Linked DNA regions of Homo sapiens. The protein of the gene in region 3 purifies or fractionates together with the protein of the main gene of each other region. This does not show direct contact. Each region holds a gene or a part of one and is shown on either strand. Other genes may lie near its edges. The genes, in order: PUM2, REEP5, LITAF, HECW2, PUM1, R3HDM1 and PTPRD.

Evidence for each region.
Region 1: the proteins of LITAF (region 3) and PUM2 purify together in Homo sapiens (affinity purification with mass spectrometry; 2 studies listed by BioGRID and IntAct, with this or other methods). This does not show direct contact.
Region 2: the proteins of LITAF (region 3) and REEP5 purify together in Homo sapiens (affinity purification with mass spectrometry; 2 studies listed by BioGRID and IntAct, with this or other methods). This does not show direct contact.
Region 4: the proteins of LITAF (region 3) and HECW2 purify together in Homo sapiens (affinity purification with mass spectrometry; 2 studies listed by BioGRID and IntAct, with this or other methods). This does not show direct contact.
Region 5: the proteins of LITAF (region 3) and PUM1 purify together in Homo sapiens (affinity purification with mass spectrometry; 2 studies listed by BioGRID and IntAct, with this or other methods). This does not show direct contact.
Region 6: the proteins of LITAF (region 3) and R3HDM1 purify together in Homo sapiens (affinity purification with mass spectrometry; 2 studies listed by BioGRID and IntAct, with this or other methods). This does not show direct contact.
Region 7: the proteins of LITAF (region 3) and PTPRD purify together in Homo sapiens (affinity purification with mass spectrometry; 2 studies listed by BioGRID and IntAct, with this or other methods). This does not show direct contact.

The regions. Positions count from the first base shown.
Region 1 is NC_000002.12:20,281,345-20,284,844, forward strand, and holds part of PUM2 (pumilio homolog 2), read right to left. Parts: intron 2,143-3,500; coding exon 1,999-2,142; intron 1,888-1,998; coding exon 1,603-1,887; intron 1-1,602. UniProt on the Homo sapiens protein: Sequence-specific RNA-binding protein that acts as a post-transcriptional repressor by binding the 3'-UTR of mRNA targets.
Region 2 is NC_000005.10:112,901,728-112,905,227, forward strand, and holds part of REEP5 (receptor expression-enhancing protein 5), read right to left. Parts: intron 792-3,500; coding exon 653-791; intron 1-652. UniProt on the Homo sapiens protein: Plays an essential role in heart function and development by regulating the organization and function of the sarcoplasmic reticulum in cardiomyocytes.
Region 3 is NC_000016.10:11,580,420-11,583,919, forward strand, and holds part of LITAF (lipopolysaccharide-induced tumor necrosis factor-alpha factor), read right to left. Parts: intron 1-3,500.
Region 4 is NC_000002.12:196,219,555-196,223,054, forward strand, and holds part of HECW2 (E3 ubiquitin-protein ligase HECW2), read right to left. Parts: intron 2,787-3,500; coding exon 2,657-2,786; intron 1,388-2,656; coding exon 1,241-1,387; intron 600-1,240; coding exon 485-599; intron 1-484. UniProt on the Homo sapiens protein: E3 ubiquitin-protein ligase that mediates ubiquitination of TP73. Acts to stabilize TP73 and enhance activation of transcription by TP73. Involved in the regulation of mitotic metaphase/anaphase transition.
Region 5 is NC_000001.11:31,055,718-31,059,217, reverse strand, and holds part of PUM1 (pumilio homolog 1), read left to right. Parts: coding exon 1-14; intron 15-3,500. UniProt on the Homo sapiens protein: Sequence-specific RNA-binding protein that acts as a post-transcriptional repressor by binding the 3'-UTR of mRNA targets.
Region 6 is NC_000002.12:135,719,984-135,723,483, reverse strand, and holds part of R3HDM1 (R3H domain-containing protein 1), read right to left. Parts: intron 1,561-3,500; coding exon 1,478-1,560; intron 1,016-1,477; coding exon 931-1,015; intron 1-930.
Region 7 is NC_000009.12:10,603,003-10,606,502, forward strand, and holds part of PTPRD (receptor-type tyrosine-protein phosphatase delta isoform 1 precursor), read right to left. Parts: intron 1-3,500.

The DNA.
Region 1 (3,500 bases), on a different chromosome or scaffold from region 3:
AAGGGGGAAAACAGCCTTAACTAAGAAACAAATGGAAATTTGAAAGAATTGAGTAGGGGCCTAGAAATCTGAACCAGACGATCAGTGACATACTACGTGAGAAAGGAAACATGGGGTTTAATCAATGCTCTCTTTTTTCTGAATTATTTAGGGCCTACAATTTATAATTTAAAAACTATTTCCACAAGTTTGTTTTTTATGTTACTTGTTCTTCCAGTTTTCCTCAGAATATTTAGGATTCTTTGGAGAAAATGTCCCAATTGTGTTAGAAACAAGGAATGAGTCCTATGGGAGTGCGTGAGGTGGACAAAGAGATACACAACTCCAAAAGCAATGAAAAAACTCAAGTACAAAATTGAAAAGATTTAACAATCCCCATGTTCACTGGATTTTCCCTCAGAAATTCTTATGAGCAGTCTTCAGATAATTTTGTGTCAGTCCAATATGACATCCACTTATTGTATTTCATTACAATAAATGAAAAAAGATTCTGCCATCTAAAAGTTTGTGGCTGTTCTAGACCATCCTTCCTGTATATATGAATGATAAAAGTTCAGAAGACACTCCCTTAGAAAACTGGCAAGCATTGTTAATAATGCCTGGCATGTGTTAGTTCTGCCATTTTCCACACCAGAAAAGAATATAATTTGATGTGGTAAGAAAAGAGATCAGAAACAGATATTAAGGACTGTAGCAAGTTATGTTATAGAAACAGAAAATCTCTTGAGGTCCAAATAGTCCTATCCTCATGAAGTAAAAGCTGCCAGCTGCACCGATAGAACTGGGTCAGCTGTTTTTTCCCTAATGTTTCCTGAGTACTGTGGAAACCTCACAGAAAACACCAAGTGTATCAACAAGAAGTCAACGTGGGCCTCTTCTGATTTCACTTAGTTCTTCCTCTACCACAGGATCCAGGAACCAGTTTGAGTGGGTCAATTATTTAGTGAAGCTATTTAAAATTTTGATTTGTTAAGTGTTATATAAAGCTAAGATACATGAATAGATACCCTTTTAAGTGAATTTTTAGTGACAAAGGCTAACTTATTTAATCTAAAAGATAACCATACTGGTAGCTTCTTAGGGGATTCTGTGTAGAACATTTCAGTATTTATACATACACATATGTATTTTTTATATTAGGCCAAATTTAAAAACTGTAATAAACTACCAGCATTTAATAAGAATAAACCATCTAATAAGGACACAAAGATAACTGCTTTAAAATACCAAAAATTTAAGACGGCAAAATATTTGCCTCCACAAACATTATGTAGTGAATGAAGATGAGCTAATAATTAGTGAATAATATATTGACCCAAATAAACCCTACTAAAACAAAAATTACAGTAATCAATTCCTAGAGCCAGGGAAAAAGGAAATGTATTATATATGAGTAAAGAACAGGCTGCCTATAGTGAGTTAAACATTGGTGAGTGTTGAAAAGATTTGCAGGATTTTTTTTTCCTACAAATTAAACCAGTAGTCCAATACTTTATTCCTGTCCTTCCTATCCTACATGCTATTATTGCTTATTTTAATGTTAAACACACTCATATACCTCTTCCACTTAGCAGAGTACACTCATCGTAAAAACAAACTTACCTGATGAACCAAATCCACTGAGGGCTGAGCCTATAGCAGCACCCAAAGAGTTACCACTTCCAAAGCCAAGAGATGTACTTCCAGGTTGACCAGGTCCATGAGAAAATAAAGAACTACTCTGGGAGCTATTAGTCAAAGAACTGCTTCCATAAAATGAATTAGATTGCAGATTAGTGCTTGGCTGCTGTTGCTGCTGCTGTGGTGGCTGAGTGCCAATTGGCCGAAACAGACCATTTGTGCTGCCTGTAAGGCTACTTGCAGTTCCTCCAGCTGCTGCTGCTGCTGCTGTAAAATAAATTTCAGATACTTCTTTAAACCACCCAGAAAATTCTGTATTTTAAAAATGGTATCTCAACACCAGAAAAATATTATCCTAAAAATGTCAGTTACACTTACCAGCTTGTGCTGCTGCTGAACTAATTAAAACAGGTGTTGGAGCCATTAACCGAACTGGAGCTCCAAGGCCAGTCCTTGCTCCAGGGCCAACCACTAAGGCACCAGTCTGATCATAATAGGCAGTTGGAGCTAGTACTTGATAGCCTAAATAAAATAAAGGTTTACTAATGAAAGCACTTATTACAAAAACATGCATATTTGTTTTTCCCTGCATTTGTATTTTTTCAACTAGACAACACAGCTATTTGTACCATTACTATAAAATCCTTAGTTAATATATGCAAAGCAACACATTTGACAAGGTCTTACTAAATATATGAAAAAGTAATAGACTGTCATTAAACATTTTTTCTCTAAATTTTACTCAGGGGCCACAAAATGAAGAGGTATTTTCCTTAATATAGAAACTACAGGCTATGAAGGAAGGGCTGATATTAGAAAAAAAAAATCACCATTTAGCCCTTCGAAGAAGAAGGATTAAAAAAACTGGGAGTAGCGAGGTAGAACACTGTACGAAATGTTTACTGTGCAATTTCATTGAAGTTCAAAATCAAGTGCCTCATTACCAGCATTCCGTTAGATTTTCATTTGTAATCATCTCTTTAAAAACTTAAGCCAAACATTCTATTTGTGAAGATTCTCAAGCTAGAGTTTAATTAAAAATCACACAGGCTTTAGTTTTATTGTAGCCTTAAGCACAAGGTAGGTAATCTTCACAAATAGTGGAGAATAAAGTTAACTTCTTAGCAGCCTTTCTCAATGGAGATTCTCTGTTGAACCAAAAACACAGAAAATGATTTAAGTAAGTATTTTGTTAATTCTCCTAAGGATGGTATATAACAAGCATCACTCTGGAATCACAGGAGAGAAGTTAGCTATATACACTGTGGATACTTCAGAGCAGTAATAAGGCTTTATTCTTTTCTGGAACTCAGTTTAGAAAGGCTGCCTTATAAAGCGACAAAAAACTGAGGCCCAATAACCTTACAACTATCAGCAAAACATGCATTGGCAACTTTTTTTTCCCTTAAAGAGTGCTGTCTTGCTCTGTTGTCTAGGCTGGAGCACAGTGGCATAATCATAGCTCACTGCTGCCTCAAACTCCTGGGCTTACATGATCCTCCCGCCTCAGCATCCTAAGTGGCTGGGACTACAGGTACATGCCACCAGGTCCGGATAATTTATTTTTATTTTCTACAGAAATAGGGCCTCACTATGTTGCCTAGCCTAGTCTTTAACTCCTGGGCCAGCGATCCTCCCGCCTCAGCCTCCCAACTGTGTCTGGTCCTTTAAGAAGTTTTTAAAAACACAGACTATACTGAAATACATTCCAACATCAATTTTTAAGTCTTATTTTGTTAATACTATGCAGAAGTGAGAGTTACAGTAAAATTAGTGATAATGCAGCATGAACATTTTATTGCCTTTAAACACAGTAGGCTAAATTCAGCTCAAATATAATAAACAGTGCTCAGATAAACACTTCACCTGTAAGACACACA
Region 2 (3,500 bases), on a different chromosome or scaffold from region 3:
AGGTCAGATTGAGAAATCTCCCAGAAGAAGTACAAATAAATAGATTTTTAAAAAAACCAACCCTGTCTCTACTAAAAATACAAAAATTAGCCAAGCATGGTGGTGGGCGCCTGTAATCCCTGCTACTCAGGAGGCTGAGGCAGGAGAATTGCTTGAACCTGGGGGGTGGAGGTTGCAGTGAGCCAAGATCATGCCACTGCACTCTAGCCTGGGCGACGGAGCAAGACTCCATCTCAAAAAAAGAAAAAAAAAAAAAAAGGCTAAGACCAAAGACAAAAAGAATTATATATCCATAATTAACCAGAACTAAAACTCAAGATACTACCATTTATGATGGTGGTTGGAGTGATGGAGCTTCCTATATTTAATTTCCTATATCTAAATTTCTTTAGATAAAATTGTTTAAAAGAGTAGCCAGGTGCAGTGGTGTGCGCCTATGGTCCCAGCTACTCGGGAGGCTGAGGCAAGTGGCTTGCTTGAGCATTTTTTTGTTTTTGTTTTTTTTGAGACAGAGTCTCGCTCTGTTGCCCAGGCCTGTCTTCTTGTTTATAATCTGAGACAGAGCCACAGATGCACAACATTCAAGCATTTATTCCTACTTCTTCTATACAGGTACTGAGATGGAGTTTTAGTGGTAGCAAGACCAACATACCTTCAGCATGTAGTAGAAGGGGAACCATGACAGGAAGATATCAGAGAAGAATTCAGCAATGCTGAACACACCATACACTACCCAGTAGGTCAGCCACTGGGTATCATCTTCTTTGTTGGGACTCTCTATAGCTTTAATTCTGAAAGGCAGTACAAAAGAAAGTATATCATTTGGTAAGATATCAATGAAAGATTTTCAAATACACTTTCATAACCTGTCCTCTGATACCACTGAGAAACTTAGGCACATGTAGGCACTGTGTCACTAGATGCAAGAGTACAGCTTAAAGACTGGAAGCAATGTGGATATCGGGACAAGCCATTATAACCACTTGTTTCTAGTCTCCTGGTCACCAGAGAAACCAGCACCAGCTGTTACTGCCCTGGATCTCCACCCTGCCAAAGCCTCCCCACAAGTCCTAGAATATACCACTAGTGACTGGGAGCTAGAGCAATTTCCACTCCCAAGCTGGGTCCTGCCACGAGGGATATATCAGGAAGAATTCTCTCGTGATAACCAGGTTCTTATGTACTTTTAATAATTGAGATATATCATGGGTGAATAAGAATTTCCCATAAAGCAACATTTGGAACATAGGTTAGGTACTGCCCAAAATCCACAGCATATTTTATAGTAAACGGGTGAAAACAAACCTCATGGTGTCTATTTAGTTCAGAATGTCTTTAACTGATCCACAGGCTATGGACTTTCCTCCTCTCCTCAGTTAATAACAGGACTTTCCCAACCCTAACTATTGCTTAAACAAAATTCATTCTGCAAATGGATGGAAATACATTTAAAATAATTTTCTAAATCACAGAAATTTCCTTCAGTCCTAGGAATCTCATTATTCTAAACCTGAAGCTCCACAATTTCTTATCCTAACAGATCTAGATATTTATCGTAACTGAGCTGGACTGAAACAGTAAAATAAAAGAACTCTGAATCTTGTTTAGCCTATGAAACAGGTTAACTACTGAAAATACATTGACAGGGAGCTAAGCTATGAGGATGCAAAGGCATAAGATACAATGGACTATGGGGACTTTGGGGAAAGGGCTGGGGGTAGTGAGGGATAAAAGACTACACATTGGGTACAGTGTACCCTGCTCAGTTGATGGGTGCACCGAAATCTCAGAAATTGCCACTAAAAACTTATCCATGTAACCAAACGCCACCTGTTACCCAAAAACCTATTGAAATAAAAAATTTTCAAAAAGCAAATACATTGGCTACTCCATAACATCAGCTCCCCAAAGAGACAGTCAGGCTGCTAAATCATGCTCAGTCACTCACTAAGAAAGCCCTTGTACAGTTAATTAGAAGCAGCTATGTGTGTGAGTTTTAGAAAATAACCAAAAGGGGAAAAATTGTAGCTCAATGAGATGATTACTAATGAGGAAGACAGAGAGAGGAACAAGTAATAAGGTGAATGTTGCTTTGAACTTCAAGACTAGGCAAAATTTTTATTTTTTTGAGACAGGGTCTCTGCACAGGCTGGAGTGCAGTTGCACAATAATAGCTCACTGCAACCTCAAACTTCTGGGCTTATGTAATTCCCTTCACTTCAGCCTCCCAAGTAGCTGGTACTACAGGTACACACCACCACACCTAGCTACTTGCTAAATTTTTAGTAGAGACAAGGTCTCACTGTGTTGCCCAGGCTGGTCTCGAACTCCTGGCCTCAAGCAATCCTCCTGCCTTGGCCTCCCAAAGTGCAGTCTGGTGGCTCCCACACCCAGCCCCAAATATTTCAAAGTACAAGAATCATATAAAATGAATTTAAGAGAGCTGATTATTAAAAAATGGCTTGTAATGTATGCACAAAGTCTGTATTTTTTTAGCTTCCTTCAGATAGAAGCTGGCGAATGTAATAGAAGGCCAAAGGAAAAGTGTAGACAAGCATGTTAACCAAAGAACACAGTATATCCTTTATGTGTAAGATTTCTTCTCCCGCTGTGTTTCATTTGGTATAGTATGGCTTATCCATATTTAATTGGATTTATTTAATTATTAGTATAATAAAAATTTGTTTCCTGTACATTCATTCTGGGCAGAGGAGATACGTAATTACATTTCACTCAAGGTCTTAGTTTTGTGAACGCAATAGCTCACAACTATGTACTTCCAAAAGAAGCAACTCTCAGGACACACCTGGGAATTAAACAGTCTTTTCTAGAATATGACGTAAAAACCTCAAAATGTGATGGGACTGTCATTGTTAATCCAGTGGCTTTTAAATTCTTTTGGCCACAACCCTCGGTAAGCATACATTTTACATCATGATCCAGTAAACAGACATCTTCACATAAAAATATAAACTTAAATAGATATTTCCTGAAACCATTCTGATATTTTAAATTCCATTCTATTTCATTATTTTTTAAATGTTAGTCAAGTTCCACAGATTGAAAAACAGGAAGCCTAACAGTTCAGCTCTTCTAGGAAAAAAAAATTCTTTTTTAATTCATATCTACAATATGAATTCTAAAGTCCCCATGTTAATATACTAGAACACTATATAGTAACATTGAAAAGTAGAAATAAAAGAACTCCAAATTGAATACATACACTGATCACAACTTTGCAGAAAACCAAGGCATATGAAAGAAGCCAGGAAAAGGCCAATGAGTCTATTAAGCTAAAGAGATTTTTTAATAGATCTTCTCATATTATTGAAGCATTTAATTGTTTTAATTTAAAATAGCACAATGTTCAATTTAAAAAATGTCTTTATGTGTCATAACAATCACAAACTACCCAAAACAAGAAAAAAGGGAAGAGATGGTCTAGCTCACTCAGGAACGTGAGGTTCAAAAAAGTGAAGTGCCCCATGTAGTCATGGTGA
Region 3 (3,500 bases):
GCTAATTTTTGTATTTTTAGTAGAGACGGGGTTTCACCATGTTGGCCAGGCTGTTCTTGAACTCCTGACCTCATGATCCACCCACCTTGGCCTCCCAAAGTGCTGGTATTACAGGCGTGAGCCACCGTGCCTGGCTGGAAGATCTTAACTTAGGAGAGGAGACTGAAGGTCGACACCTGGTCACAAGCCATCACCTGCTCTTCTGAGGCTACTCTGAGACAACTTTCATCATTCAAGAGGCTTTTTATCTGCATTAACAAGGCAACCTTTGTTCACCATACATTTCCTCCCCTTACCCTTCTATAACCTATCACCACCTGCCTCCAGGAGCCCCAGGCCCCTATTCCTTTTTCTTTTTTATTTTGAGACAGGGTCTTGTCTGTCACTCAGGCGGGAGTGCGGTGGCACTATCTCGGCTCACTGCAGCCTCGACCTCCCAGGCTCAAGCGATCCTCTTGCCTCAGCCTCCAGAGTGGCTGGGATCACAGGCATGAGCCACCATGCCAGACTAATTTTTGTATTTTCTGTAGAGACAGGGCTTTGCCATGTTGCCCAGGCTGGTCTTGATCTCCTGGGCTCAAGCGATCCTCCTGCCTTGTCCTCCCAGAGTGCTGGGATTACAGGCATGAGCCACCACGCCCAGCCGCTTATTCCTTTTTCGTAGCTCAGGCACACTACATAAACTTCAATTATCTGACCTTGCTTTGAGTTTCACTTTCTGTGGGACTCCCACATTTATGCATGGAATAAATTTGTATGTATTTTCATCCGTTAATCTATCATCAGTTTATTTCATAGGCTCAATTATGGTACCTTCAGAAGGCAGAAAGAAAGTCTTCTCTCTCCCCTACATAGGCCAAGAGTAAGAAAAACTATAAGGTGAAATGGAATAGGCAGGTCTTACCCCAAAGCACTCAAGTTCAATTTAAAAAAACAAAATTTGAGTGCTTTGGGGTGAGGCTCATGCCTGTAATGGCAATACTTTGAGAGGCCAAGATGGATGGATCACTTCACTCCAAGAGTTTGAGACCAGCCTGGGTAACATGGCGAAACCCTGTCTCTACAACAAAAAACCACTAAAATTAGTGTGGTGGCTGAGGTGGAAGGATGGCTTGAGCTCGAGAGGGAGGTTGAGGCTGCATGGAGCTGTGATCACGCCACTGTACTCCAGCCTGGCCAACAGAACAAGGCCCTATCTCAAAAAATATATAAGTAAATAAAGTATATTTTGGTTAAATGCCAAAGACTAAGTGGGGGGTAAAGGAGAGTTTCTGACACTTCTAACTGATGAGGTGAAAAATAAAAAATAAAATAAAATAAAAAGATACCTAGAATTTCAGCAAAAGAACAGGTTTTAAAGGAATCTCCCAAACTCTGCCCAGCTGAATGCATATTTACACCTGACCACAAGTCCGCACTCCCCTCGAAAGGTATTTCACAGCTTCCACAAAGGAAGGACGACAAAATTGAGCTCACAGAAGTAGAGAAAAGAACTGTGGTTACTGGAGGTTACAAAGGGGAGGGGAAGAGAGGCTAGAGAGAGGTTGGTTGATAGGTACAAAGTTACAGTTCAATGGGAGGAATAAGTTCTACTGTTCTGTAGAACTGTAGGGTGAATATGGTTAACAATTATTCAGTGTATATTTTCAAATAGCTAGAAGAGAGAATTCTGAATGCTCACAACACAAAGAAATGATAAGTGTTTGAGGTGATGAACATGCCAATTACTCTTTGATCAATTACACACTGGAGACATATAAGAAAATATCACTCTTTATCCCATAAATGTGTATGATTATTATGTGTCAACTAAAAATAAAAGAGAAAATGGTCAATGGCTTTTTAAAGGGTTTGAAAACAAGAGCAAGATATAGTGAAATATCTATTTCACTCACAACGGAAAAAAAAAAAAAAAAAAAGAACTCCCCACAAAGCTTTAGCCACATGTGGGTGGTAAACTCTTCTAAAAATATATCCTCAAGCTGTGTATAGAACTGTTTTCTACATTTGGGTATCAGATCAACACATAAAAGGGCAAGGCCTTCAGAAAGATAAAGCGGCTTTTTAACTACCAACTTAATCCTCGAAGATCGATTCTTCCAGGAAGAAAAAGGAGAAATATTCAATTCTACTCTGGTCTCCATCTCCCAGCCCCCAGAAAAGAAACACTAAGCTAGGCCCATGAATATGTATATCGCAGAAATGACCCCAGAATAAAAAAAGGGATTCCTTAGGCAAAAGAAGGGCACTCACATGCAAATTGTCAGGTCCCCTAAGAAAATAGCCTAGTTTGTAAACAAGAAAGAGAACCAGCTGCGAGGGTCAAAAAGGTCTGGTCTTTTAGGGTCTCTGGAGAAAAACGTTATTTCCAATAATGGGAGCACAGTGGATCCTGACTATAATCAACTTTCAGGAACTATCCAAATTGTACACTTATTAAATTGAATATTGCTTAAAATTCTTAAACTAAGGAGGGTCACCTGGCAGGTTTTAAGCTACAATAATTCTGCAATACGGTTTTTGTTGTCATGGAATTTAACCTGTCTATCATTCCTGAAAATGTTCAAGGTGAATGGTGCGTCTTAAGCCATAAATGGTTAAGCAGGAAGGTAGACAAAAGGGGAAACCCGGACCTCCAGCTCTTTGGGAAAGGAAGCGAGAAATTGGCCTTTGGTTATTTGATCCCAAACAAATTCCAGTTTCAGTAGACCTCAGTAAAAGTACAGAAGCTCAGAGTGAAATATTTCAGAGAAATGTGTGCCAATTCCATCTTCTGAGTTCAGGCTGTTTCTGCAGGGCGGTATGTCCCACAAGTCAAAGATAAAGTTACCACAATCTTAAAGCCAGGTTCAAGCATGGCGTAATGACAAATCACAGTGATTTGTGGAATGGAAAATGCTTCCATCGGGGAGTTGGGCTGCTCCCCCACAATCAGAGTGGGCAGTTTTCCTCTGGACTCCTGGTGAAACCACATCCCTAGTTTCCACGTGAATCACAGTTTTTCATCAAACAGTGCAAGGAGATCATTAATAAGACTGAGACTGCATTAGGATACAAAATTGTATGAACGCTGATGACAATTTCATAGAAAACAGGCACAAAGACAAAAGACAGAAGCCGCCCGATAAGGACAGCCAGTGGTAGTTGTTTCGTTCTATAAGATTATGCCTTTCTTCTTTATCTTCCACACTTTAATATTTTTTAATAAAAAATTTCAAACTATCAGTGCATCATCTAGGAATAACCTCATGGATTCAAGTTTAAGGCAAGACATCATTAAGCTCTTAAACTTACCTGAGGCACACTGTCAATTAAATCTAAGGCTCCATGAGCTAAATAGCTTAAATTCTCCAACATTATTTTCTCTGAAGCCTCCAGCTTTGGATCCTGGTATATAAACTCCTACCTACTGCGAGGTGAGCAGAGAATTACCATCACATAGACACCCTCCAGAATGGTTCCTTTCTTGTGTCCATGCCTTAAGCTCTATGAAATTACAC
Region 4 (3,500 bases), on a different chromosome or scaffold from region 3:
TGTTGTATTTTGGGAACTGTGTCTTATTCCATTCAAGTGTTCTGACTATGAATTACAACTGATAAGGAGCGTAGTGAACAGTGGAAAAACTGTGCTGATTGGGAAGCTCAAAGGGTGTGCTTTTCTAAGTTTTAGAAACAAAATGGAATAGGTGGAGTTTGACCAGCTGGATGTTAGCTCCTTGGTGCTTCACTGACAACACGATAAAGTAATTAATTAGTGTTCTTACGGTCACATTTCCTCACCAACAATTAAGAGTTATGACATCCTTTGACGGTGTGTAAACAGTCCTTCTCCCATCTGACAGATGAGGTAATTAGGAAAAGAAGAGAATGTACCTTGCCCAAGGTCTCAAGGGAGCCTGCATCAGACCTATGATTAGAGTCCAAGTGCTGTTGCCTGTCCTATATTCAGTTGGCAAGCTGAACCATGCCTTCCTTTAATTTGAAATTTAAAATCTAGCCATCTATAAATCAAATTTCACCTCCTCTATATTCTGTGTTGTTTCTCCAATCACTTAGGTCTATTTCAGCTGTGCCTGCGATGACCAATTCCAGTTCTCTTGCATCAAAAACAGATACCAGCCTGGCATCCACCACCTGTGGAATAAAAAGAGTACAAGGCATGGCTTAGGAGCCTGGAGAAATATCAGCTATAATTAAGCCTTAGAAAAGGGGACACATGGAGTTTCAGGAATAATATGTGTGTACCTTGTGTTGGCACTTGAAAACCTGTAAAGCTCCCTACAAATATAAGGCATTCTTTAGTATAAGGTTGATGAGATTTGCCTTGACAGAATTTTTGTTTTATAATTGATTGCTGATTAATCTAGGTCCCGTCCACCTTTAGGAAACTATCTAGTGTTTCTACAGAAAAAGTCACATACAATACATGCCAACTCATTCTGATCTCAGATATAATTATTTCACATAGCAAGCATGAGATTTGATTACCCATATCTAAGCATAAGATGCATGGCTTAAATGTTACTAGTGGTCATTAAATCAACAAATGCTACTTGAATGCAGTCCATAACATTTATTTCAGTGATCTCTCGTAACAGTGAGTTAAGCTTCTTTTGGTGCTCTTGAAACATAAGGGAAAAAATACTGAACTTTTCGCATGGAAAGAGCAACAGTAAATACAGCAGAAATAGTCTACACATGTAAAGTACAATAAGATGGACTGTGGCATCATTGATATCAGACTGCAAACTCCTCCTACTGCTGATTGTCTTTACCTCATAGAAGCCACGCACTAAGCTCTCTGTTTGCTGTACAACACCCCTCTCAATCCTCCACTTCACCATCCTCTCGATGTACTCCTTCTTGTTCTTCTCTGTAACTGGGATATTGGCACCCCCTGGCTTTAATTCTCGTTCAGTTATCTGAGATTACAAAATAAAAAGAATGACTACAAAGCAATACTCTTAATGTTATAACAACATTACTAGCATTGAGCTGAAATCAGCCAGCTACCTGTCCCAGCCCTGCCCTAGGCACATCCCACAAGCTGGCAGTGAGGCCCCAGGCACTCACGGAGCACACACACTCAGGAAAAAATAGGCATTGAGGGGGTGCTTGAAAGCTTTGGTGATTAAAGTATATATATGTATTGCTGTTACTACAGGTTAAGTTTTAAAATGCCGATGAATCGGCTTCAGATACTAGCCTGCTACTATTTGAATGTTTGACAAAACCCATTTTCACAAATTTCTCAGAATTGACTATATCTAGCGTAAAGATTTACTTTAAAGCAGAATTACACTCAAGTGAATGTTAAATTGAGAACTTTTTCAAAACACATGGAATGCAGAAAAGCAGCTAAAGATTAATGCCTAAATAAGAATATTAATTATAAACTGGTATATAATTTCTGGAAGAAACGTTTTCCCTACTCTTCCACCAATTTTGAAAAAAAAATTAATATATTCTGTTCTTAAGTCTTCCCCAAAACATTGTTTATGTTCCCTTAGCTTCAAAAAAATCAATTTTGGTTCTCTTTATTTTTCTTTTCTTTTTTGAGACAGGGTCTCACTCTCGTCCCCCAGGCTAGAGTGCAGTGGCATGATCCAGGCTCACTGCAGCCTCAACCTCTCCAGCTCAGGTGACCCTCCCACCTTGGCCTCCTGAGTAGCTGGGACTACAGGTATGTGCCACCACACCTGGCTAATTTTTGTATTTTTTGTAGAGATAGGGTTTCACCATGTTGCCTAGGCTGGTCCTGAACTTCTAGGCTCAACTGATCCTCCTGCCTTGGCCTCCCAAAGTGCTGGGATTACAGGCATGAGCCACCGTGCCCAGCCACCATTCTATAAATGCCAATTAAAAAATTCTGTAGTGTGGACTTTAAAAAACTGCATTCTATATAAGGTAAATTCTCATATTTTGGGGGATATTTTAGTTGGAAATAAAAAGAAGATTGCTTACAACATAAACAGTTATCACCATCTGTAATTTACAGCATCTTAATCTGCAGCTGACATTAATTCTAATCTTTATAACTGCGGTTATTATAACTGTGTGTGATCCTGAGTTTAAATCACCCAATAAACCACGAATAAATAAGCATCTGATCTTAGCCATGGAGTTAATTCTTCACTCATCAATAGCCTTCAGTTACCACACTTAGGCGCCAGGTGTGCAGATACACACACCTGCCCAAATACTTCTTCGTTCACAGTGAACGTGAGGTCTAGGATGTCATGGATATCATTGTCTTTCATCCACTGCAGGCTCTGATGGAACTCTTCATCAAGGTATTCTAGGTCACTCAGGTCACATAGACTAAGATGACAAACAGACAGAAACAAATATGTAGGCATGGCTATTAGCAAAAACCCAGAGTCATAAGGAAAGAAACTAAGAATTAAAGAGAAGAATAAGAGCCACTACATAGGCAGTGATTTCTGGAATGTTCTTAGTCCAAGTCCAGTAATTAAACCAAACCAGTGAAATAATTCAGAAATTTGTTATAAAATTAGAAAGTCCTAAATATATAATATGCCACAGGAATCATTCAGCCTGCGTCTTCCTTTATAGACACAGAACTGGAGGTGCAAAGAATGAGTGCCATCTGCGCAGTCATCCATCATCAATGCCAGATCAGGAACTGGCACTCGGGTTGACAACTTGGATCCATTATTCTTTCTGGCCATATTATACTACCTTAAAATACTGTTATCTTAATTTGAAATTATTTATATATTTCTATATTTTAACTTTTTTTAATTGAAAGACATGATTTTTATTTTAATATTTATTTTATTTTATTTTTTATTAAAGACATGATTCATCTTCACATACATTCCCTTTTTCTTCATGGTTCTTATTCTGAAAATAGTAAGCCACAGAACCTGCCGTCAATCTGTATTTTTCCCCCACTTTTTTTAATTGTAGAGAAAGAATCGACATGAGGTAAGTTACTGTTCCATGGCCCAGTTGTACAGTGGTAGTCATTGATTTGCTATAGCTGTTTTGAAATTTCACTCCCCTTAACCC
Region 5 (3,500 bases), on a different chromosome or scaffold from region 3:
ATGCAGAACATCAGGTAAAAAAAAGTTCACTATTTTAGCTTTGACATTCCTTTATAATCACTGTCCACTTAGGATATCTGCTTTCAATGAATGTCTTTAAAAACTTAAATTGCTGATTTCATTTGGTACAAACAGTTACTTGTTATAAAGGTTGATCATTGTAATACTGTTACTGGGTCATTTATCATTCTGGTGCTAAATAGTAAATAGCCAATTCATTCATTCATTCATTCATTTGAGACAGAGTCTTGCTCTGTCACCCAGGCTGGAGTGTAGTCGCCTGATCTCGGCTTGATCTCGGCTCACTGCAGCTGCTGCCTCCCAGGTTCAAGCAGTTCTCCTGCCTCAGCCTCCTGAGTAGCTGGGACTACAGGTGTGCACCACCACGCCTGGCTGATTATGTATTTTCAGTAGAAACAGGGTTTCACCATGTTGTCCAGGCTGGCCTCGAACTCCTGACCTCAAGTGATCTGCCCGCTTCGGCCTCCCAAAGTGCTGGGATTACAGTTGTGAGCCACCCACGCCCGGCCTATAGAATGCATTTTTTTTTTTTTTTAAGACGGAGTCTCACTCTTTTGCCCAGGCTGGAGTGCACTGGCGCGATCTCTGCTCACTGCAAGCTCCGCCTCCCAGGTTCATGCCATTCTCCTGCCTCAGCCTCCCGAGTAGCTGGGACTACAGGTGCCCGCACCATGCCTGGCTAATTTTTTGTATTTTTTTTGGTAGAGACGGGGTTTCACTGTGTTAGCCAGGATGGTCTCTATCTCCTGACCTCGTGATCCACCCATCTCGGCCTCCCAAAGTGCTGGGATTACAGGCGTGAGCCACTGCGCCCGGCCTACAACGCATTTTTAAGAACACTTTTTTTGGAACAAAGGATTCTTTTTTTTACTGTTGACATAAGAACTGCTAGGGTTGTTTATAGGATAGATACATATTTTTGAATCTTTTCTCTTGGGTGTGGGTGACTTGATTTTAAGATGTTGTAGTTGAAAGTAGGGGGAAGTTGATAACATCAGCTGCTCAAGTGAAATTTATTTGAAATGGGACTGATATATTGTGTCAGAGAGAAGTGGTTGTGGCTTTTAGGTTTTAACCACCTTTGTCCTCTTGTTATTGTTTAATTTTTAATTTTAACATGTTCAGTCTTATTAATCTAAAACCATAGTGGGAATCATAGCATATTTTACTGAGAAGAGAGGTTAGCCTTATCCATGTTTCCTGATTTCTTGATAATGACCAACCAAAAGATTAGACTGTTTTGATCAGGGTATTCTTTGAAATTGGGTATAGGTTGAATTTGGAAAGGTTCATTTTGTGTCACCCGTCAGTACTGATTAGCGAGAACTGACATTTTTCATTAGGCTTCTAGTGCTTCTGTTTTACTTCAGAAAAAATCAGGTACAAACATACCTGCAAGTCTGATTTTATTATACTTCCTCTGATCCCCCCAAAAGTGAACCATAGTTGTTTTTTTTTTTTTTTTTTTTTTTGAGATGGAGTCTCGCTCTGTCGCCCAGGCTGGAGTGCAGTGGCACAATCTCGGCTCACTGCAACCTCCCCCTCCCAGGTTTAAGCAATTCTCCTGCCTTACCTTCCCGAGTAGCTGGGATTACAGGCACCCACCTCCATACCTGGCTAATTTTTGTATTTTTAGCAGAGAGAGGGTTTCACCATGTTGGCCGGGCTGGTCTTGAACTCCTGACCTCATGTGATCCACCTGCCTCAGCCTCCCAAAGTGCTGGGATTACGGGTGTGAGCCACCATGCCCAGCCCTTTTTTTTTTTTCTTTTTCTTTTTTTTTTTTTTTTTGAGACAAGGTCTGGCTCTGTCATCCAGGCTGGAGTGTGGTGATATGATGATATTGGCTCACTGCAACCACGGTCTCCCTGGTTCAAGCGATCCTCCCACCTCAGTCTCCTGAGTAGCTGGGACTACAGGTTTGCAACACTACACCCGGCTACTTTTGTATTTTTTGTAGAGACGGGGTTTTGCCATGTTGGCCAGGCTCTACTTTGAGCCCAGGCTCACAGTGATCCACCTGCCTTGGACTCCCAGAGTGCTGGGATTGCAAGTGTGAGCTACTGCATCTGACCAGTTCTTTACTATAGTCGAAACAAAGACAGGCTGGGTGCAGTGGCTCATGCCTGTAATCCCAGCACTTTGGGAGGCCGAGGTGGGTGGATCACCTGAGGTAAGGAGTTTGAGACCAGCCTGACCAACATGGTGAAACCCTGTCTCTACTAAAAATGCAGAAATTAGCCAGGCGTGGTGGCGCATGCTTGTAATCCCAGCTACTTGGAAGGCTGAGGCAGGAGAGTCACTTGAACCTGGGACAGGGAGTTTGCAGTGAGCTGAGATCTTGCCATTGCACTCCAGCCTAGGCAATGGGTGAAACTCCATCTCAAAAAATAAAGTAAAAAATTAGCTGGGCGTGGGGGCACATGCCTGTGTTTCCAGCTGCTTGGGAGCCTGAGGTGGAAGGATTGCTTGAGCGTGGGTGGCAGAAGTTGCAGTGAACAGAGATCATGCCACTGCACTTCAGCCTGGGCAACAGAGTGGGACCCTGTCTCAAAAAAAAAAAAAAAAAAAAAAAAAAAAAAAAAAAGAAAAGAAAAGGAAGGTTTTCAGCTGTAAGGCTGAAAGAAGGCTCACCCCTGCAATCTCAACACTTTGGGAGGTCAAGGCAGGTGGATCACCTGAGGTCAGGAGTTCAAGACCAGCCTGGCCAACATGGTGAAACCCCGTCTCTACTAATAATACAAAAAAATTAGCCTGGCATGGTGGTGCACACCTGTAATCCCAGCTCCTCGGGAGGCTGAGGCAGGAGAATCGCTTGAACCCGGGAGGTGGAGGTTGCAGTGAGCAGAGATCACACCATTGCACTCCAGCCTGAGTGACAAGAGCGAAACTCTGTCTCCAAAAAAAGAAAAAAGAAAGATTTTCTCTTTCTTTGGGATGAAGATATGCACAGAATTTGGTGATTGAATTAGAAATCTTATATCCTGGAAAGATGAAGTAATGGAGGAAAAGTACAGAGTGCCTCTGGTTTGGGACACAGTGATTACATTTGATAGGACACCTGTTGAGTTTGAGGTAGAAGCAGAATATCTGGGTGTATACTGTAGGCAGCTCTACCTGTAGCAGGAAATCAAGGTAGGAGGTATTTGATTTGGGTGGCATCTGTGTAGTGGGGCAAAAACAAACCCTGTAATCTCTGTACTATTTGGCTAAATGTTATTCAAAAATCATAAACATTGGTTTTTTAAAATCTGTAATAAAGATCTATAAGATCTTTTGTTGTGTTTCCTAATGATAGACTGATGGGTGGAAGCTGAAAGGAGAGTCAAGGTGCCTGGCAGGTTCTTTGCTAGGTGAGCAAATCAAACTCTAGGTCAGTCCTTGGCAGAGCTCTAAGATCTGATTATTGCTGTGCAAGTTAAGAAGCGTTTATTGAAGGCTTACTCAGGCCTCTGTCTTACACTGAGCCCTATCATAAG
Region 6 (3,500 bases), on a different chromosome or scaffold from region 3:
ATCCATCTTTTAAATCATTCCTACTTACCCGATAGGCAAGGAATAGAGGGCTAATAGTGTTAAAGCTACTGAGCCGGGCGCACCTGTAATCCTAGTACTTTGGGAGGCTGAGGTGGGTGGATCACCTGAGGTCTGGAGTTCGAGACCAGCCTGACCAACATGGTGAAACCCCGTCTCTACTAAAAACACAAAAAATTAGCTGGGCGTGCTGGTGGGCGACTGTAATCCCAGCTACTCGGGAGGCTGAGGCAGGAGAACTGCTTGAACCTGGGAGGTGGAGGTTGCAGTGAGCTGAGACTACACCACTGCACTCCAGCATGGGCAACAAGAATGAAACTCCATCTCAAAAATAAATAAATAAATAAAAAAAATAAAATTAAGCTACTGATGTCATAGTCTTTACTGGTAGTTGCACAAATAAAAAGAGGCATTGTACAGTGGCTTCTCTAAATTAGGTGATCTCAAACATTTTTCTGAACTTCACATTTCCATTGTAAAATAAAATAAAAGCACTTGCCCTAACCACACCACAAGGCTGCTGAGTAGAAAGTTAAAATATAAACTTGAAGGTACTTTACCACAGAGAGGCAACATATTTGTTCACTCAGACTTTCTCCCACATGGATGTAAGGACAAACCCTTTCTCAAAGAACTAAGAGGCTAAGAGTTTCACTCTACTTGTTCCTCTCACACATTTCCCTGTGGCCCCTCTGTCCCTCCTAAACCTACCTGCATCTTACCATATATACTCTCACATCTCAAATGACACAAGGTCATAGGAACATATCCAAGAACCCTAAATCAGAGATGGCAAAAATTATGACTTTTTGCAGGATTCTAGGAAGAGGAAAACCCATTTCTGTGCTGTGGTGTATTTTTAGACTGTCACCAGTTTGCAGACCCACATCTAGTTGCCCCTCAGAGACATACCTGTTTCTCCTGCTCCAAGGTCTGTGGATGCAGCTTTTTTAGCTTGTCTCCTTCCTCGGTTTCCATGCCTGCTGCCAGGCTGACCCTGAAAACCCACAAATAGTTGAGAAACAACGTTAATAATGCTGAAAAACACACTTTGGATGTTTAACAAATTAACACCAAAACACCTTTAGTTTGGGTTTTGCACTCTGGCAGAAGAAAATCAGTCCCAGGCCTTCTGGATTCTGCCTGTGGCAGTGGCATTCCTGTCCTTCATTATGACCGATCACTTGCTGACGGTCCTTCATTAGCAAGAGTGCCCCAATCCCTAGCCACTGCCTTGTCTTTGGGTGGCACTAGAGAATTACTGCTCTGCCAAGCAGCACACCATCTTCTCCTTTGCTCTGCTCCTGATGGAGCCAGTGATAATCTGTGTAAACCAACTGGCTGAGGCACAGAGCTCTTCTTGGGCAGTGCCAACAGGTGGGCTCAGGGTTGCCCCTTACACTCTGAGGGAGCTATGATGTTCTGCAACAAAGCCTAGGAGGTTAGTTGTCTTTCCTACCTGTTGGTTTGGAATGTGTCCGTGCAGAACAGCAGGAGGATTGTACTGCAGTGGCTGGCCAAGTAATGGATACCTGGAATCTCCTGAAAGTCAATAAAATATTTTATTTTATTGCCAGAGGCCGGGCACGGTGGTTCATGCCTGTAATCCTAGCAATTTGGGAGGCTGAGGCAGGCGGATTACTTAAGGCCAGGAGTTCGAGACCAGCCTGGCCAACATGGTGAAACCCCATCTCTAATAAAAATATAAAAATTAGCCAGGCCTGGTGGTGGGCGCCTGTAATTCTAGCTACTCAGGAGGCTGAGGCATGAGAACTGCTTGAACTTGGGAGGTAGAGGTTGCAGTGAGCTGAGATGGCGCCACTATATTCCAGACTGGGTGACGGAGTGAGAGACTGTCTCAAAAAAATAAAAAATAAAATAAAACAAAAAGTACTTGCCAGAGTTTTCTAATTGTTCAAAATAAGATGAACAGGGGAAACAAGTATGGTGGCATAAAAAAAGTATAGATAACTGACATTTTTCTTTTGGAGACAGGGTACTGCTCTGTTGACAACCCAGGCTGGAGTGCAGTGGTGCAATCATAGCTCACTGCAGCCTTGAACTCCTGGGTTCAAGTGATCTTCCTGCCTCAGCCTCACAAGTAGCTGGGACTACAAGCACAAACTACCATGCCTGGCTAATTTTATTTTAGTAGAGATAGAGTCTCACTATGTTGACCAGGCTGGTCTCAAACTCCTGGCCTCCAGCAATCCTTCCACCTCATGAGTTGCTGGGATTACAGGTACAAGCCACCATGCTTGGCTAAATGACATTTTAAACAAGAATTAAAAATTTCCACATATCCTTTTAAGAGCCCAGGCAAAATTCTGAAAAGATTAAGGACTAATAACAGTGGTTAGGAAGGAGGGTGCATGGTAGGAACTACATGAATAGAGACAGGATGGAGAGAAACTTCTCTGGATACTTTGAAGATATGGAAGAGGAAGAATCTAAGAAAACTATGACACTAAATCCTAACATCCCGTATGAAATACACCAAAATAACTACAATACACATGCCAATCATTTGAGGTGCTGAAATCCATATCACTCTATTATGATTAAAATCTTACCTTTCAGAGGAAGGAAGAAACTCTGGATAAACATTAAGTTTTTATCTCCCCAATTCACTATTAATTGCTAAAAATTTATGCATATAATATATGCATGTACACATTTACATATACTCAAACACACTTTAATAGTTTTAACCAATGGGTAGTTGTACATCCTAGGTCTTAAGTCTGCTCTTCTTAATCTTTAAGTGAAATTTGCATTTATAATTTGAACCTGTTCAGAAAAAGTTGTGTAGTTCTTAAGTGTCATTATTCGTAAGTATTCCCTTCCTAAATCAGTAAATGTGGGTTAATGAGGATGGAGATCTTCCAATTGCTTTCTATCACTCAGGAAAGCCTGAAGTCATCACACGGCAAAGGCTTAATAAATGCTGACTGCAAAAACTTTGTCTTGGATAATAAGGTTTTTGTGTTACATTTTCATTTATTTTAAGTTCTCAAATTTAGTACATTTTGTGTTTGGAGGAGGGTTATCAGTAGGTGCTAGGAAAGCATCCTCAGGAAACTGTACACCCCTTCTCCTGAGAGCTTCATAACAGAAAGCAGCAAGGTGTGGACTTCTTGCCATTCCACAAGGCTCCTTCCGGGTGAACACAGTGAAGATGCCTGGGCAGCTCCCTGGCAGGACATATGCATGACATACTCTTTCCCAACCTATAGATGGAAGGGCAGATATGACATGGGGGTTTAGCACTGAGATCAGAGATGCAAAGTGAAGTGTGAAGGTGTATAAAAAATAGTTGTGAAGGCCGGGCGCGGTGGCTCACGCCTGTAATTCCAGCACTTTGGGAGGCCGAGACGGGCGGATCATGAGGTCAGAGTTCGAGATCAGCCTGGCCAACATGGTGAAACCCCGTCTCTCCTAAAAACACAAAAAATTAGCCAGGCGTATGGCACATGCCTGTA
Region 7 (3,500 bases), on a different chromosome or scaffold from region 3:
TTCAAAAATTGTGGCTTTTGGTCATGGATTATCAAGTACAACAAGGTGTTTAAGGAGCTGATATACCATAAAATCTGACGCCAAGAGGCTGTAGAGGTTAGAGTGGTAGGAACTGAATGAATTAATCTTCCCAGGAAAAGGGACCCGAGCTTGAAGGGCCACCCCAGGGAAAGGCAGAGAGCACAGCAGGTTCTCTTTCTGACAGATTGGAAATCCCAAAGGAAGAAAAAAATACACTCAGAAGCATTTGTGCCACGCTTAACTCTCAACTTTGGGAGGAGATACACTGGAGTTAGTTTTCCTTGATATGATTTGCCCTCTGCTTCTTTGTTCCCCTGGGCAGCACTTTTACAGTATCTGTCCTCCTGCATTCACATTTGTGATCATTTACTTATGATAACTTGTGCTCACTTCATTTGAAAGAATTTGTCTTATAAAAGCAGATCCACAATCTCACACTTTTTCTGCTTTTCATGTACAGAATCTAGATAACTGTAGCATTTACCTTCCGTACTAATATGCACATCTGGGAAAATACGTTATTAACTTTAGGCAACTTAACCTCTATGTGCTTTAGTTTTCTCATTTATAAATCAAAGATAATGATTGTACCAACTTCACAGGAATGATATGGGTATAAATAAGTTAATGCATGGAAAGCACTTAAAATAGTGACTGGCAGATATGAAGCAGTCAATAAGTGTTGGCTATTATTATTACCTTCTATCTGAAGATTTCTCAAGAACTCATGAGGCAGTATATAAGAGATAAAATTCAAGAAACCAAGAAGAATAAAAAGATCATAGTGACCTTGAAACCATCTCTGATTTAGAAACAAAAAAGTGTAATTACATACTTCTTTTAATCCCACTACAAGAAGTGATAAACTACATATGAGCTGCAGATTATTATATGGATGAGAAGGATGAATGAGTTGTAAGAGAAATGCACAATACAGACAATAGTATAATCTATTTAATAATGTTAATAACACACCCTTTAATTGTTCATAAGGCCAACATAGTCATTCCTGTGTGTCACCATAGCTCCCTATGAAGTTAAAAAACATAGGCAGAAGAGGGGAACTTGGCAATAGAAACAGAAATAGGAAGAGAACTGATGAGTAATGGAGGAAAGAAAAGCCTGCCATGGTGAGGACCATATATTCTGACCTATTCTGACCATATTCTGACCTAGCTTCTTCATCTCTGTATTCAGCAGCATTTGATTCACACCAAAGCATTCTTGAATATGGCCTGAAATTCCTTTCTCTTAAAATAGCTATCTATATCTGTATCTATAATACCATCAGAATATCTCTCAGAATGCACTGATGTAATACTTCAAAAAGCCAGTATGAATGTGTCTTAGTGAATGTGTAATTTGTTTTATTAAATCCTGGCATGTTTTCCAAGTGGGAGAGGTGTATGGGAAAATAGGAAGACTTCAAGCCCCTAAAAAAAATAAAAATAAAAAGGAAGGAATATCCTCCTGAGGGGCAGGAAAATGGGAGAATAAAGCACTAGACTTAATCCCTGAGACAATTATACTGCAAGAAAGCCTTGTTGCTTGCAACCACACAGGTATAAATGATGAGGCTAAGCTATTCTTTCAGAGCTAACCACATATGTTTCCTAGGAGAAAACAAATGGCTAGCACATATGACACACAATAAATACATCTATTCAGAGGAGTTGCCACTGGAATTCTTACACACTAAAATTATAAGCCATGGTCCATTGAAACAGGTACCATAGATAAGTGTTAATTGAGAACTAATTGAATGTATTATATAATAAAATAGGAAATTACAAATGGGAAATATTTTTTCTATACTTGTGATGCACATAATTTAGCTTTAAAATTTACAGGTATAAAAGTTTTTTGAAGGTGAAACAATATATCATCTTGGCACTGTTTTTCAAAAGTTCCTGCTGAGTAGTACTTTGATAAAGGTTTTCAGGGGGAATAAAAAAGGAAACTCTTCAAACTTAAGTCATAGATGTTTCCATGATTTTTTTTAAGAGAAATCAAGACGTGAACTTAGGGTAACTTATTAACTTCAGCAGTATCTAACAATCCCACTACATTTCTAAACATTTAAATTGCACTTTTGCCTTCCTCTTTGGTTATTTGATCCAAAGTACACATTATAAGTCCTCTTATAAGAATATCTCACCTCAAAAGGTACAGGAAGAATTTCCTCATTTTTCTCTGTCTATTCTCTTTCCTGAGAAAACCAAAGCACTTCTGCTATTATGCTTTGGTTATAGCTGAAAATAACATGAGTCTTGACTGTAACTGCTATTGTATTCTATGAATTTGGAAATATAAGGGACTGGTGCATAGACTGTAAACTGCTGCAGTGGTCTGGCGATTTATTTGTGTTTTTATATTGTGTCAATATTAGGATAGTACGGCGTATTTTTATCATGCTTTACTGCCTTTCTAGAACTTTGGAGAGTTGAACACACATAAGGAATTAGCACTGGAGTGAGAAGATGATGAAGGGTGCCAAGAAATTCCAGTGGAAAACAGCATAGACTGCAACTGCCTAATAAGCAACACAGCTTCCACCTAGGTTCTAAAAGCAATAGCTGTGACTCAGGATGACAGCAAAGGAGAAGGACAATAAGGTAAGTGTAGATACGTATCTGGAAATTTTTCTGTGATATAAAGGGAGAAATGCCTTAGGGAAGAGATTCCTTTTTCTCTATGGAATCAAAAATTTTATGATAACGTGGATACATTTTATAAGACCATAAGATGGTCACAATTGGGTAGTTTCAAATTGCTAGCACATGGCTGTTTTACTCAGCACTCCTTGACACATAGGAGACTCAATACATATTTGGGACTAGATAATATTATATGATTTATGCTGCCGTATTATGCATATTGCATAATCCTGACTAGTGATTCTGACTTGACAACATTTACAAGCTTGAAAATAGAAGAGGGTGCAACCTCTGCAAGTAGTTTGAAAATAGAAGAGGGTGCAACTTCTAAGAGTAGTGCATAATGTGAATATGGTACCTGAATTATTGTCCTATCCTTGATTTCTGTAGCAAAATCAAACAGGAATTACTATGGTTCATGAATAAACTGTCCTTCTCAATGGTTCCAGATGGTTATATTGTTATCAACAGCAAAAAAACGGAAAAGTGACAAGATAAAAGTGTGAGCCAGACTTCCCTAGAAATCTGATGACCACCTAACCCCAAGGTGAAAGATTTATCTTTCATCCTGATAACCATTTGGGTGAAGAATAAGAAATGAAATAATTCTGTCTCTAGCGTGAGATTAATGAGTCACTCCTTCTACCATTCTCTACCCCCTCCATCCTTTTCCACTGAGTAGAATTTCTAACTTTGATTATAAAGATTTGAGGCCAATTATTGGGAAAAAATCCCAAGGATGCTAGCTTATGTGAGTATTTTTCCTAAATTCTAAATACAGGTTTTTCGTAAGTGGCCTACACTGGTTCCACTTTAGAAACA